Linked DNA regions of Homo sapiens: region 1 is linked to region 2. The links come from fine-mapping of genetic effects on gene expression. Tissue or cell type: sun-exposed skin. Region 2 holds a variant in brackets; the other region holds the start of a gene. All regions are shown on one strand. Distances are from middle to middle.

Region 1 (8,101 bases), 33 kb after region 2:
ACCAGACTCCACAGGGCCCTGCTGCCCAGACTCTGCCCAGAGACGGCTCCTTGGGTGGTCAGGTGCATGGGGGGCCTATGTCCTAAGCAGCTCGGGATGGGGCTGGGAGGAGGCCGCAGCTTGTTCCAGGAACACAGCTGTATCCCCACAGGTGAGGGATGTTAAGCGTCCCTGTCAGCAAGTGCCCGTCTTTCCTGAAACTGGGTCCACACCAAGCCTGTTCTGCTGAATGAGGCTGGCCGGGCTGTGGGCTTGTCACGAGCTCCACTGCTGAAGACGGTGCCCTCTAGTGGCAGCTGGCACCTCTGCTGACCTCATTCATGCGCCTCACACACACAGTGCCCGTCCCATCTCTCATCACTGGGGTCCCAGTGTGTGCCTGAAGAAAAACCACACCACATGGATGAAAGCAAACCCACTCGAGACAGAGCCCCAAACTCCAAGTCTCATTTTGCCCAAATCTGAGTTTTATTTTTGCTGGAATCAGGTCATCTGGCCTGGCTGTCCCACCAACCCAGCTGGGAGCCTCTGAGTGGCCTGCCAGCAGCATCTCATTACAAAACAGCCCCCTGGAACCAGGTAGCCAAGGAAGCGGCCCACCTGAAAGGCATTTAGATTGAGAAGAAAAACTGCACCTTCCTGACAAAGGTCAGGGGTCACGGTGAAGGGAGGGCTGCTGGGATCACAGGGACAGCAGCATCTTCTAGCAGCTTGGCCATACCAGCCACTGAGGTCCTAACTGCAGCCAAGGGGCCGTTCTGCACATGTCGCTCACCCTCTGTGCTCTGTTCCCCACAGAGCAAACGCACATGGCAACGTTGGTCCGCTCAGCCACTGGTTCTGTGGTGGAACGGTGGATGTCTGCACTGTGACATCAGCTGAGTAAGTAACAACGACTGAGGATGCCGCTGACCCAGGGCTGGGGAAGGGGACTCCCAGCTCAGACAGGCTTGGCTGTGGTTTGCTTTGGGAGGAGAGTGAACATCACAGGGAATGGCTCATGTCAGCCCCAGGAGGGTGGGCTGGCCCCTGGTCCCCGGGCTCCTTCTGGCCCTGCAGGCGATAGAGAGCCTCAACCTGCTGCCGCTTCTCCTTGGCCCGGGTGATGGCCGTCTGGAAGAGCCTGCAGTAGAGGTGCACAGCCAGCGGAGAGTCGTCATTGCCGGGTACAGGGTAGGTGATGAGGCAGGGGTTGCAGTTGGTGTCCACGATGCCCACTGTGGGGATGTTCATCTTGGCTGCGTCTCTCACGGCCACGTGTGGCTCAAAGATGTTGTTGAGCGTGTGCAGGAAGATGATGAGGTCCGGCAGGCGGACCGTGGGGCCAAAGAGGAGGCGCGCGTTGGTCAGCATGCCGCCCCTGAAGTAGCGAGTGTGGGCGTACTCGCCACAGTCACGGGCCATGTTCTCAATCAGGTACGAGAACTGCCGGTTGCGGCTTATAAACAAGATGATGCCCTTGCGGTAGGCCATGTGGGCGGTGAAGTTCAAGGCCAGCTGGAGGTGCGTGGCTGTCTGTTCCAGGTCGATGATGTCGTGGTCCAGGCGGCTCCCAAAGATGTACGGCTCCATAAACCTGCCAGAGACCCCACCAAGGCAAGGGGGATGAGAGTTCACGGGGCCATCTCCACTGGCTCCTTGCAGGAACACAGACGCCCACCAGGGACTCCCGGGCTCCTCTGTGGGGGCACTATGGGCTGGGAAGCACAATTTGCAACGCTCCCCGTGTGCATGGACAGCAGTGCAGACCCATCCAGGCCACCCCTCTGCATGCCTCGTCTCGTGGCTTAACCCCTCCTACCCTCTACCTCTTCCCGAAGGAATCCTAATAGAACTGACCCCATATGGATGTGTGGACATCCAACATGACGCCAAAAGGACATTCTGCCCCGTGCAGCTCACAGGGCAGCCGCCTCCGTCACTGTCCTCTTCCCGAGGCTTTGCGGATGAGGCCCCTCTGGGGTTGGACTTAGCGGGGTGCTCTGGGCCAAAAGCATTAAGGGATCAGGGCAGGAGTGGCCAAGCCTGGGCGGGGAACCCTGATCCAAAGCACTGGACCACTGCTGGCCTGGGCTGAGAAAAGCGGGGCATGGGAGACACCCCCGCCTCTCGGTGCGTGACAGGCGAGTCATCCACATTTGCGGTTCCCAGGTCCTCACCTCCAGTCTACTCCCACTGGGTTCTGTCCCTTCCTCTCAAGCAACCCTGCCCATCAAGGCACTGGCGACCTCCATCTTGCCAAGGTCACAGCCTTGAATTCACTTCTCAGCAGCATCAACAGAGAACCACATCTCCCCTACCCCCGGCTGTCCCTCTTCACTGACTCCAAACACTGGAGCACCCAGGGCTCCACCTTGGACCTCCTTTTCCGATGCTCTGGAAACACCTGCCAGCCCCCGATGCTGATGGCTCCCTGGGCCCAGGCCCATCCCTCCTGGTAACCGTGTGACCTCTCCACTGGGGCAGCAAAGGGTTCATACCTGGTAGGAACCAAGCTTGTGATGTCCCCCAGGTCTCCCCTGGTTTTCACCATCTCAGTAACCAGTACCAGGCTCCACCCGAAGAGCAGGTGTTTGATCCCTTCGGCCCCAGCCACCTCCCACCCCAGCCCAAGGCCCACTGGCTCTGCCCTGCTGCCTCATGTCCACCTGCTGCTCCAGCTCTTCCGCTACTGCGATTTAAGCCCCGCCACCTTCACCCTGAACGCCCACACCAACCTCCTCCCTGGCCTCCCACCTGCCCCTCCCATCCCCTCCCCCCACAGCAGTCAAAATGACCATGTGAGAATACAGGACCAGTCATTCCTCCTCCCCGCAGCCCAGAAGGCCCAGCCCGATCCGGGGGGACCAACCTTACAGGTTCTGCCCTCAGCCTTTCCATTTCTGAACCCGTGGAGTCCTGCAACCCCCAGCAGGCCTGCCCTATCAAGGGCTGTGAGCGCCACACCAAGGCACACAAGAGCGTCCGCCAAGCTGAGGAATAAACTCCTGCTTCTCTGTGGGGCTCTGTATTCCCATGTGGAGGAGGATGGGGCTGTAATCACCTAAAACTGACATAGGCCAGTTCAAAAGTGGCCCTAGAACCAGAGCAGGTCCCAGGTTCCTCCTGGGAACCGCCCCGGGCTCAGATGGGGGTGTCACCTACCTGTGCCGACAGCCAGCTTTGTGTCCCAGATGGACTCGGGCATCGAAGAGGCTTCTCACGGAAAACAGTTCCTTGACATTGAAGAAGTCAGAGTGCTTGAGGGGCTCATTCAAAATCTTGTCGTTGAAATCTACGGCAGGGAGGAGGAGCGACGCTGCGTCTCCCACCGGTGGCAGCAGAGACAGGCAGAGCGCAGTTCCCGCCCACCCCTGCTCCCAAGTGCCTTCTGTGACACCGAGGTGGGGAGCCGGGAGCCCAGCAGCCCCAGGAAAGACCTGGAAGCACAGGGACCTTTTCAGGAAACAGAGGGCTGGAGCCAGGTTCTGATCCCGACCTTGCTCCTGGGTAAGCCTGGTCGAACCTGGTCAACCCCGTCCCTTGGTCTTACTTGGAAGACAGAGGAGAAAAAGAGAGGGGCCCAGCGGGTTGCTCAGGTCTTTCTGGCACCTCCCCGCCTTGTGGTCTCAGGTGGCCAGCCAGAAAGTCCCCATCAGGAGTCCAGCAAGGTGGGCAGACTCCAAGCCCAGTGCCCCCAGGTCACTTGGGCCCGCCTGGGCGAGCTCGGGGCTCCGGGCCTCGGTGGTCCAGTGACACCCCCCTAGGGAGCGAAGCCTGTGCTAACCACTGGCCCGCCCGCTCCCTCTCACCCTATCCATGGTGAGGCGGTGGCCTCAGCCCGCTGTGCTACGTCAGGCAGGACCGAGCGGCGGCGAGCACGGGAGTGGGAGGAGCCCAGCGGAGCGCGCAGTTTCGACCGCGTGCAGCGCCCAGGCCCCTCTAGGGTTCGCATCCCCCGCGGCTGCCGGCCTCTCCTCGTTCCCACCCAACTCGGCTGGGCGCCCAGTGTTACCGGTGCTGTCCTCCGACTCGCGGATCATAAGGGCCGTCGCGCTTCCAAGCGTCCTGCGGCTCGGCCGAGCAGGCCGGGGGGTCGCCTTCCCGAGAAAGCCCAACCAGCGCGACGGGGCCCGGGCACCTGGGGGGAAGTAGATAGAGGTCCTGGCGCCGAGTCCCGAATGCACCACGCCCGCTCCCCACCGCATCCCCAACGGGCCCCTCCGCGTCCCTAACGGGTCCCCTCCGCGTCCCCGCGCCCTCCCCGAGTCCCCTCCGCGCTCGCCCCGGGTCCCCTCCACGTCCCCGCCGCTCCATCGGGTCCCCGCGCCCCTCCGCATCCTCCTCGCATGCTCCTCCCCAGGGTCCCGCAAGCGCGCGCTCACCCGCGCCGAGTATTCGGGGCAGCGCGGCCGAGGATGTCGCCATGGCTGGGACGCGGGGCAGAGCGAGGTCTCCCTCCAGGCCAGGCCGAGCGGCCTCCCCTTCCGTCGCCATCCGCGCGGGGCCGCAGTGCCGCCTACAGGCCCGGAGGAGCCACAGCGCTGTCCCCAGGCGGCTGGGACCTCCCTGCGGGGGCGGGGCACGCGAGGGGTCAGGGCCCGGGGTCCTGGGCTTGAGAGTCTCGGGCGGGGAGTGGAGCCACGGTCCTCGCCCTGCAGCTCGCCCCGCCCTGCTAATGGGACCGGCCAGCCCGGGAGGCCCCTGACCCTTGGGGAAGCCCGCTGGGCGATGGGGACCCTCGCCTCCCGCCAAGTGAGCTGTGAACCACGTCCTGCGCAACCTCTCGCTCTCCAAAACTGTTTGTAATATTTAAACGATATTTGGCTTAGGAGAATTTCATAAAGTTAGCCAGATCTCGGGTCTCAATTTAGACTCGGGGTGCTGGGGGGCATAGCATCCCTGGAGTACATTGGACAGCAAAAGTCCAATCGTTGCCTGCCGAGTGGACCTGCAGTGCTTAAACCCCGTCACCCGGCTGGCGGGGTCCCAGGCCCTGGGGTTTCTTTCGCCCGGGAGTCCACGCCCTGATGCTGGGGTGGCCCGGTCCCCCCGCGGGTGGCTGGGGGCCTGGGGCTGCCTCACACGACGGTCCCAGCAGGGAATCTCTCGCCGTCCCGACCTTCCCGGCCCTTGGGGAGTCGCCCGGCAGGTTCCGGACCCACCCGCAGAGGAACCCGGCCCACGCGCGGCGCCTTTAAGGCCCCTCCGCTCGCTCCCCAGTCACGTGACCTGGCCGTCGCTTGGCAACAGGACGCCGCCGAGTCCCGCTTCTCCTCCAGGCACAATGGCTGAGGAATGCCCCAGAGCGTGCGCGGAGCCTGTGGCGCCCAAGGCCACGGCCCCGCCGGAGAGGACCAGCGACTACTACCGCGTGAGCGCGGACCTGCCGGGCAGGTTCAACAACCCGGGGTGGTTCCGGGGCTACAGGTGAGGAAGCTGGGGCCCGCCTGGTCCTGGCGTCCACTGCTCGATAGCCCCGTGTGTGAGAGACCCCGCAAGACCCCCAAGGTCCTAGCTACAGAAATCAAGAAGATCGAGTGGTCATCCGGGGCCCGCGCTGTCATCGCCCGCCAGTGAGCGGCGACCGTGCTCCCTAGAGCCTCATACAAGGAAGTGGGGATAAGGGCAGTGGGGGGCAGGGCCGTGGGGGGAGAAAGCCCAGTTGTGGTCTCAGCTCCACTGATTTGTGTCGGGTGAGTCTCCTCTCCTCTCTACCCTGAAACTCCGCTGCGGGGCGTGAGCACAGCAGCACCTCCACTGTCTTGCTGTAGACTCAGCCAGCTCTGAGCTGCCACAGGGCATTGCAGGCTAAGAAGTAGTAAGAAACTCAATTCCTGTAGGCAGGTGCAAACATCTTGCCGTGCTCATCACACATTTGGTCCCTCAACAGTCCTCTAGGGCAGGGTCTGTTAGTATCCTCATTCTCGCATTGAGATGACTGGGATGTAGAAGGAACAACTTGGCCAAGATCTAGGAGTATAAAGTAAAGCTATGTCGTGGGCCTGCAGCCTCTCAGTAGCCTGTCCTACTGACAGGTAGGGGCAGTGGTACCAGTAGAAGCATAGCCTCAGTGAGGGTGGGGGCTCAGAGGCAGAGGGACCCTCTGGGTGGCAGGGTCTGGAGGCCAAGCCTCCGCTCCTGACAAGCTAGGTTACCCAGAAATTGCAGCATGTGCCGAGGCCCTGCCAGGGCTGGGGATCAGCACTTGCTGGCTGCCTGCTCTTTAGGGCTTTGGCCTGCCTTGGAAGAGCAGGGACAGTGGCAAGCAGAGGGGGCCGGGGAGGCCGGGCCATTCAGAACGGTCATCAGCCAGGTACTCCCAGAGGCTGCCTTCGAGGCCACATCACCAGCCCGGGCATATTGCTCTTTCCATGGGGGCATTTCCAGGGGAGTGCCGTCAACCAAATACAAGGCTGTGGCTTGTGCAGAATTAGAGTAAATGAATGAAAATAGAGTGTTTCTCATCTACCAGGACCCAGAAGGCTGTCTCCGTGTACAGGACCAGTAACCAGGCTTACGGGAGCAGAGCCCCCACCGTGCACGAGATGCCTGTAAGTGGGATGCAAGACCGGGCATGGGGGGCAGGGGGTGGGTGGCCTCAAGAAGAGGCTAAAAACCTGGGGTTCTCAACAGGTCAACAATGAGACGGGGAGGGGTGCACCCAGGGAGGAGGCCAAAGTTCCAGCATCACAAATGGGGAGGAGGGAGGTTCCCAAAATCGCTTTGGGAGAGGGTAGGATGGAACTAAATGAGTGAATGAATTTGGGAGTGGAGTGTTTTAAAAGAGGAGGATATAGACTTGCTGACATCACCCTGCCCCCATACACCCAACCACACGCACAGCAGTCTCACACACACACACGCAACCATCTCCTGCAACTTACGGTGCTCAGTTCTGAGGCAAATAAATGAAGGGCTACTTTTTTTTTGGAATTGTACTTTATGAGATGTTAACGTGTAACCTGAAGAGGCAGTACTGGCTGACGGCACAGCTTGTGGGTGGGCAAGTTGTATTGGTGGGCACAGGAGTCTGTGGGCCATTGGGGAAGCCAAACCCTTTTTGAGCTTGACCTTAGGCTCCAGGATGGCCCTCCTAGAACCTCCCCACACCAAACCCCATGAAGGTCCAGGTGAATGGACAGAGGGACTAGTGCGGTGTCTCCTGCACACCTGGGACACTGGGCCAGCCATTCTGGGGTGAGAATGTTGTGGACGTATTTTCGTTGTCAAAGCATTCATCACTGAAAAGGTCTGGTGAGTGCTTATTTAGTTGTGTGGCGTGAGTGACTGAGCCCTTGTGAGAAGATTACTTATCTAAAAATGCTGGAGCATTTGAGAATCACTCTCCCGTAATCAGACGACCCTGAGTTTTCCCTGGGGATCAGGTATTTCTATGAAAAAGACCAGACACAGCTGGATGCGGTGGCTCACGCCTGTAATCCCAGCACTTTGGGAGGCTGAGGTGAGAGGATCACTTGAGGCTCAGAGATCAAGACCAGCCTGGGCAACGTAATGAGACCCCCATCCCTGTAAAAATAAAATAAAATAATTAGCTGGGTGTGGTGGCATGCACCTGTAGTCCCAGCTATTCAGGAGGCTGAGGGTGGAGGATTGCTTGAGCCCAGGAGGTTGAGGCTGCAGTCAGCCTTGATCATGCCATTGCATTCCACCCTGGGTGAGAGCCAGACCCTGTTACCAAAACAAACAAGCAAACAAACAAAAACCAAAAAAAAAAGAAAAAAAAACCCAGCACACTCACTAACATGGGTCCAGATGTTTTAGGTTTTATAAAAGGCCATGAAAAAATGTTCCTATTGTAAATGGTAGGAGCCTTCAGGTCACTGATGGGAGCAGGCAGTGGGGTAGGAGGCATGAGGTACTACTGACAAGTTTCCAAGGAGGTTCTCCTCCTTCTTATCCACCTGCTCCGTCTGGAGTCTCTTTTCCAGTTTCGTGACCAAGGGTGGATGCCGGAGAAGCTGTTTACCTCCCATGTGGGAATAGAAGATAAATGCTTTGCATTAAAAAGTGCACTGAAAGGCTGGGCGTGGTGGCTCACGCCTGTAATCCCAGCACTTTGGGAGGCCGAGGCGGGTGGATCACCTGAGGTCAGGAGTTT
Region 2 (8,101 bases):
TTTAAAGAGTGAGTATGATGGCATGTGAAATATATATCAAATAAAAATTTTAAAAACCACCTCCCCAGAGAAGCCTCTCCAGGCTACACAATGGAAGATGCAGCCCCTACTCTCCCTGTCACTTCCCTGAGCTGCGCTCCATTACGACACATCACTCCCCGGAGACACCCTGTTCATTTCCTTGCAGTCCTATTGATTGCCAATTCCCCCCATGGGCAGACTGAATAATGGTTCCCTGAAGATGTCCACATCCTCAGCCCTGGCCCTGTGGATGTGTGTATGTGGTAGACTGAATAATGGTCCCCTGAAGATGTCCACATCCTCATCCCTGGCCCTGTGGATGTGTGTATGTGGTAGACAGAATAATGGTCCCCTAAAGATGTCCACATCCTCATCCCTGGCCCTATGGATGTGTGTATGGTAAAAGGGACTTTGCAGATATAATTCAGGAAGGATCTGAGATGAGCAATTAGCCTGGATTATCTGGGTGGGCCCACTGTTATCACAGGGGCCCTTATAGGAGAGAGGCTGGGGAGCGAGGGAGGGAGAGAGAGAAGGGTGGGGAGAGAGAATATTTATGAACAGAAGTAGAAGAGGCTGTGCTGCTGGCTTTGAAGGTGGAGGAGGGGCCACAAGCCAAGGCATGTGGAGGCCTCTGGAAGCTGGAAATGGCAGGGACAGATTCCTCCCCAAGAGCCTCCAGAAGGAACCAGCCCTGCCAACCTTCGTTTTAGCCCCGTGAAACATACTGAAAAGAAGAGCTGGAATGAAGCATCTGAAGTTCTCTCAGCAAAACCTGCATGCTCGGTTGTGGTTGTGGGTTTTTTGACCAACAAATGAAAGCGTTCTAAGACCCCATGCACCGTCGGCTGAAGGGGAGCGTGAATATCTGTTCCCAGTCCCAGCCTCACAACCAGAGGATGCATTTCTTCACGGTTTTCTCCTGCAGCTCAAGGAGGGAAAGCACTTGGAATTATTTGACTTCTCCCCCTCACTCAGTGGAACTTTGGAGTCGTTCTTCCCACCCTTGTCAACCACAGGGCTTTCTCATGTCTACAGGCGCGTGTGCAGATTTCTTGGGTGTGCACAGATGCAGGGAGGGCATCTCGTCGATGGAAAATGGGATACTCATGGGCACGGCATGAAGTGACACCACAATTCCCTAAATTGTTTGCTGTGGTTGCTCATTGGGACGTGGCACCCACTGGAACCAAGGCTTTGGGAAGCCAACTGGCTGCTGTGCTTGGCCACAAACGTGGTAATCATGACTGCAAGGAGAAGGGGGCGGGGGCTGCCTGACTGATCTGGGGCTTTCAGAAAGGAAATGCCAAGGTCTGAGCTTGAGTAACAGGCAAGACACTGGAGACATTCCATCCTGACCATAGAATAATATTTCATTCTTGCAGCCACAGAGCAGAAATGGCTGAAAATCAGACTCCACATTTAATAGTGTGGGTTGCATGGTGAGTTGGATTCAAAAGTCGCCAAGTGTTTTATGTGAAAGTTGGGTCACTGCTTAAGGAGTGGGACCATGACACACAGAACTGGGACATTTATGTGATCTCAGATGGAAGTGAGAATCTTGATCCCCTCCCCAATCCCCCTGAACCTGCCGGGGCAGAATCACCCCCTCCTCCCCTCCCCAATCCCCCTGAACCTGCCTGGGCAGAATCATCCCCTCCTCCTTTGCGTGAGGAGATGAGACTTCCCTTTCTCAGACATCTTACCCCGAGGCAGTTGTGTCGGGATGGATTCTAGGGGCTTTACACCAGGAGAACCGCGCTCCGATGTGGACCCAAGCTGAGTGTGTCAGTGCGTATGTGCTGAGTGTGTCAGTGCGTATGTACTGAGCACGGCAGAGCTCTCAGCATGGATCGGCTCCACCCAAGCCCCTGCACCAGGAGACAGGAGATCGCCAAGCTCTCATGGCATCCAACAGCAGGAGGCGCATCCCTGGGGTGGCCCCAGCCCCCTAAATGCTTGCCTGAGAGCTCGGCACTGCAGGTGAATTTGCTGTGTGTCCTGGCCAGCACCCAGCTGCCCCTTCTTAGAGCTTTTGCTAAAAAGGGCTTACACCTGTGACTCCTTCCTCTGCCCCTTTGAGAAGTCTATTTCTCCTACAACGCAGAACTCTTTCTCAGGCTGGGTATGGTGGCTCACATCCGTAATCCCAGCACTTTGGGAGGCCAAGGTGGGTGGATCCCTTGAGGTCGGGAGTTTGAGACCAGCCTGGCCAACATGGTGAAACCCCCCCCCCCATCTCTATTAAAAATACAAAAATTAGCCAGGTGTGGTGGCAGGTGCCTGTAATCTCAGCTACTTGCGAGGCTGGGGCAGGAGAATTGCTTGAACCTGGGAGGTGGATGAGGTTGCAGTGAGCCGAGATCGCACCACTGCACTCCAGCCTGGGTGACAGAGCAAGACTCTGTCTAAAAAAAAAAAAAGAGAGAAAAAAGAAAAGAAATCTTTCTCAAGGACCTGAGAGCCATTCCTTAGAAATGTGACCTTCAGGAAGAATGGGCCTCCTTCTTCCAGACTCTGTTGGGGGACAGAGTCCTCCTTCCATAACTGCCACACAGCTGGCCCCACTGCACTGACCCTGACCAGCACTCTGTAACTCTTCACTGGAGCCCCCACTCCCTCCCGCACCCCCAACCACTCTCCCTTCAGAACACCCCTTCTCCCCTGCACAAAGTGGCATGGAACCAGTCTGTCCCTGGCTCTGAGAAGCTGCTGAATAAAACCTGTCCTCACCGCTTTAACTAGCGTCCAGCTTGGCTCACTGGTGATGATGTATCCAAAATGCCGTATTTCACACATTGGCTTGAGCAGGAGAGCAGCTCTCAGATGGCTTCCAGGACTGGCTGAGCTGGCGTCGTGACCTCATTCACAGGGGCTGGGACACCAGAGCGGCCCCACATAACATGGAGAAAGGACTCTGCACTGCAGGTGTTTGAAGGGTTCCCAGGGTTTGCTTTAGGCTGGTGGGGGAGACACAGCCATAGGAATGACTGTGGGACGGAGGCTTATTACACTTAGGCCCCTAGAAACAGGAGGGGCGGGGCCTCACAGAAGCACCAGAGCCTGTCTGGAGGCACTGGGAGCAGGAGGAGAGTGCGGGCGGAGCCTGCACTGCGGTTCCCACGTTTCCCACGGGAAGGAACAGAGGAAGCAGGGTAAACAGGCTCAGGGCGGGCTGG[T/A]TTCAATAATGTCCCGGGCCCTGGGGTGTGGGGGCTGGCTGTCCCTAGCTGTCTGGTCCCTGCCCTGGGGAGGGTGTGGGCTCTGGACTGGTTGGTTTGCATATGGAAGCACACTTACAGATGGTACCTGCCCTGGGGAGGGTGTGGGCTCTTGACTGGTTACCGGTTTGCATATGGAAGGCACACTTACAGGCAAGTCATCTGCTATTTCTAGAAATTAGCCAACTCCAGGAGAAGCACTTCCTCCAGGGTTAGCAAGGCTCCAGATGTCAAAGTGTCCAAATTCAGAAAGTAAAGGCCGTGGTTCACACAGAAAGGGTGTCAGAGACAGGTCACGCAGTCATTTGAAGAGCAAATTCCTGTAAAGAATCCCCAACTGGTAACAGGAGAGGGGTTACCAATGGGGAAAGAGGACTCTAAAACCACAGAAATAACAGAAATGGGAGCCAGCTCTACCCCAGGGCCGAGGCTGCGCACCGGGGTAGGAACAACCTGGAAGGCGCTCAGGCCTCCCTGGAGAGGGTGTGTCTGCGGCCCCGGGGATGGCACAGAAGTTTGCTGACTTTGGGTATCCAAGAACTCACCAAAAGCCACCCACGGGGCTACTGCTGACTTCACTGGGGCTGAGCTCCACCTGGCATCCAGCTTGCCAGCCAAGCCCCTCAGGACAGAGAATGAAGAAGACCCCTGAATCCAAAGGGAAGCCCCTTCCTCCAGCGACCCCCGTGCCCTCTGTTAACAAGGCCCAACAGTGCACCAGTTACGAAGGAGAAACGTCGACAGGGTTTAGCTCCAGTCACACGCAGGATAATTAAGAGCAAATTTGAAACTGAGGGGCAACAAACCCATAGCTGGCATAGAACCCCAATGGCCAAGGAATCAGAATGTGGGGGTGCACACTCACCCACCCCATCTGCTTCCCCATTGTCAATTTCTTCTCTTTATTATTTCCTTTCTTCTACTTTCTTTAGGCACAATTTGATCATTTCTTCTTAAGGTGGAGGCTTGGGCCATTGACTTAAGCATTTATTTTTCCTACTAGAACCATTTAAAGCTATAACCATTTAAAGCTATAACCATATAAAGCTGCCACCCCTGCAGCCTTAGCTTATGTGAGATTAGAGCTTTAGGTTACCAAGAGGGAAAGCTCTGCTACCAGGAAGCACAGTGAATGCTCCAGAAAACCTGCTGTGTTGGCTCCACCAGGCCACACTGGGATCCTCATGCCTGCAGATGAGCGGGTAAAGAACGGAGTTACTGTATACTAGTGGGTATTTTATACTGATTATGTATATTGGTGGGTAGTTGACCCTGATTATGTGTATTGGTAGGTAATGATCGACCCTGTTATGTATATTGGTGAGTGGTTGACTCCGATAATGTATACTGGTGGGAAATTGACCCTGATTATGTACATCGGTGGGTAATTGACCCTGACTGTGTATATAGGTGGGTAATTGACCCTGATTATGTATCTTGGTGGGTCATTATTGAGCCTAATTATGTATATTGATGGGAAATTGACCCTGATTATATATATTGGTGGGTAATTATTGACCCTGAGCATGCATATTGGTAGGAAATTGACCCTGATTATGTATCTTGGTGGGAAATTGACCATGATTTTGTATATTGGTGGGTAATTATTGACCCTGATTCTGTATATTGTTGGGTAATTGACCCTGATTATGTATATAGGTGGGTAATTTTCCCTGATTATGTATCTTGGTGGGTAATTATTGAGCCTAATTATGCATATTGATGGGAAACTGACCCTGATTATGTATATTGGTGGGTAATTATTGACCCTGAGCATGTACATTGGTGGGAAATTGACCTCAATTATATATATTATTGGGTAATTATTGACCCTGATTGTGTATCTTGGTGGGTAATTGACCCTAATTATGTATATTGGTGAGTAGTTATTAACCCCGATTATGTTTATTGGTGAGTAATTGACCCTGATTATGTATATTGGTGGGTAATTATTGTCCCTAATTATGTATATTGTCAGGTAATTATTGAACCTGATTATGTATCTCGGTGGGTAATTGACCCTAATTATGTATCTTGGTGGGTAATTGACCCTAAATATGTATCTTGGTGGGTAATTGACCCTGATTATGTATATTGGTGGGTAATTATTGACTCTGATTATGTTTATTGGTGGGTAATTGTTGACCCTGATTATGTATATTGGTGGGTTATTGACCCTGATTATGTATCTTGGTGGGTAATTGACCCTGATTATGTATATTGGTGGGTAATTATTGACCCTAATTATGTATATTGGTGGGTAATTATTGCCCTTGATTATGTAGATTGGTGAGTAATTGACTGATTTTGTATATTGGTGGGTAATTATTGACCCTGAACATGTATAGTGTGGGATAATTATTGATCCTGATTATGTATATTGGTGGGTAATTATTGACCCTGAACATGTATAGTGGGGGATAATTATTGATCCTGATTATGTATATTGGTGGGTAATTATTGACCCTGATTATATATAGGTGGATAATTGATCCTAATCATGTATATTTGGTGAGTAATTGACCCTGATTTTGTATCTTGGTGGGTAATTACTGACCCTGATTCTGTATCTTGGTGGGTAATTGACCCTGATTATGTATCTTAGTGGGTAATTATTGACCCTGATTGTGCATATGTTGGTAATTATTGACCCTAATTATTCATATTGGTAAGTAATTAACCCTGAATGTGTACATTGGTGGGTAATTGATCCTGATTGTGTATATTGGTGGGTAATTATTAACCCCGATTATGTATGTTGGCAGGTAATTGACCCTGATTGTGTATATTGGTGGGTAGTTAACCCTGATTATTGTGAGCTGGTGAAGTGGCTGCTACTTAGGATGAGCAGAGAGGAGTGAGTCTAAAATTCAGGAGATTCAGGGGAGCACCCACAGGTGCCTCCCTGCCCAGTGGTGACCATGACAAAGCCACTACAGTGACCAGAGCCTGATGAGAGCGCTGACCCAGGACTCAGACACCTTGGAGATGAATGTGCAGCTTTCCCACTGGGCAAACAACCCAGAGGGTGAAGGGATCCCAGAAATGCAATGGCCGATGAAGCTTCAGTGACGATCCCATGGGGCTGTGTGTATCTGTGCGGCTTGAGGGGTGGGGGACAGACAGTCATGTGAGACCCCAATGGTGTGCTCCCAGATGCATCCTCCTCGTGTACACAGGCAGCTCCCGGCCGCATGCCCCATGGCCCATGACTCCTCGCTTGAAGGTTTTCTCCGGATGCTGAAGCGTGCCCAGCCCACACCAGGCAGATTGCATTGCAGGCTGGTAATGTCCCTGTTGTGGCCCTCAACCCAGCACAGCCAGATTGGAGGGCAGAGCAATCTGAGTGTGCTCTACACAGGGCCGAGGGAGACCCCACCTGAGACCCTCACCTCCTGTGTTCTCTTTATAGTGACTCTAAACACATGATGGTACCTTTTTCCAGTCAAGATAAGCTGGATACATTTTCCCGCATTGGTAGTAACCAGTGACTCTACCTGCAGAGTGGGAGACATCGGTGACTTAGGCCATTTCTTAGCTCAAGCGTGCCCTCTCCTATTGGGATTGTGAAGTGCATTTTGCTAAATGGTGAGTTCCACTTCCCATCGTGGTCTAGGAGCTCCCATCTGACCAAGCCTCCCTCAAGTAGCAATGATTAACTCTGGACAAAATGCAGAAACCACTCTCCCTGGGCAAACAGACACTGCAGGTCGGTTAGCACCTGGAAGAAGGTGACAGCACTAGATGAGTTTCCCATTCTCACTGCTTTTATCTGGAGGGCAGTCCCTGTCTGCACCACATGGAGCAGATCAAGCTCTGGTAGACACCTTGCAATTTTGCTGGCTTGAAGAACCAGAGGACAGAGTCCTAGGCAATGATAGCTGCTGGAAAGTGAAGAGAGAAATTCAAGAAAGAAGAGAGCCAAAGAGAGAGCCCCAAGTTCTAGGCAGAAACCGTCCAAATCTCAGGCTAACCCCTAAAAAATGAACACACAGGAAAGACACGAAGCAGCCCAGCAAAGCCTAGAAGAACTGACTGAAATGTGAACTGAATTGCTGTGCACCACAGAAGAGGCAGAGCTGACAGCTGGAGGTCAAATAACTTCCTGCTTCAAAACAAAAACCAGGCCAGGCGTGTTGGCTCACTTTGGGAGGCCCAGCACTTTGGGAGGCCGAGGTGGGCACATCACCTGAGGTCAGGACTTTGAGACCAGCCTGGCCAACATGGCAAAACCCCGTCTCTACTAAACATACAAAATTTAGCCAGGCCTGGTGGTGGGTGCCTGTAATCCCAGCTACTCGGGAGGCTGAGGCAGGAGAATCGTTTGAGCCCGGGAGGTGGAGCTTGCAGTGAGCTGAGATCGTGCCACTGAACTCCAGCTTGGGCGACAAGAGTGAAACTCCTTCTAAAAAAACAAAAACCAAAAACCAAAAACCAAAAACAAAAACCAGCACTCTTTGCAGAAACCTAACAAAACCCAGAGTTTATACATCATTCAAACTGTTCAGGATACAATCCAAAATTATTATACACATGAAGAAAGGAAAATGTGACCGTTCTCAAGAGGACTGACTCGGAGCCAACATGGAGGCAGCAGAGAAACAGCGACTGCAAACAGCAATCAAAGGGATATTCTAAAACTAAAGATCACAACATATGGAAGGAAAATTCACCAGATACAGCGAAGAGAAAACTTGAGACACCTCTGTCAACAGGAAGATACATAAATAGAAATAATCCAGCCCTATGAATAAAGAGAACAAATATTGAAAACAAAAAGAGCTCGAGCCCAGGAGCTCCAGGCTGTAGTGAGCTATGATTGTGCCACTGCAGTCTGGCCTGGGCAACAGAGCAAGACCCTG

Evidence for each region. PIP is the estimated chance that this variant, and not a neighbour inherited with it, causes the effect.
Region 1: MRPS2 starts here. The variant in region 2 is fine-mapped to the expression of MRPS2 in sun-exposed skin (GTEx, PIP 0.95).

Annotation. Positions count from the first base shown.
Region 1 is chr9:135,497,017-135,505,117 of GRCh38, reverse strand. It overlaps MRPS2 (mitochondrial ribosomal protein S2), which reads right to left and starts at 4,436. Exons shown (of 4, transcript NM_016034.5): 1 at 4,365-4,436; 2 at 3,995-4,120; 3 at 3,145-3,274; 4 at 447-1,576. The coding sequence starts at 4,407. The coding sequence ends at 985. It overlaps PIERCE1 (piercer of microtubule wall 1), which reads left to right and starts at 5,249. Exons shown (of 3, transcript NM_001048265.2): 1 at 5,249-5,409; 2 at 6,455-6,533. The coding sequence starts at 5,267. It overlaps LOC101928525 (a long non-coding RNA gene), which reads left to right. Exons shown (of 3, transcript NR_121579.1): 2 at 799-882; 3 at 1,417-1,845. RefSeq lists silencers at 781-935, 4,167-4,326, 4,537-4,706, 4,977-5,146 and an enhancer at 3,587-4,211.
Region 2 is chr9:135,529,565-135,537,665 of GRCh38, reverse strand. No RefSeq gene overlaps it. Among named protein-coding and RNA genes, the nearest start is that of LCN1, 12 kb to the right of the region's middle. The variant T/A (reference allele first, on the strand shown) is at 3,201.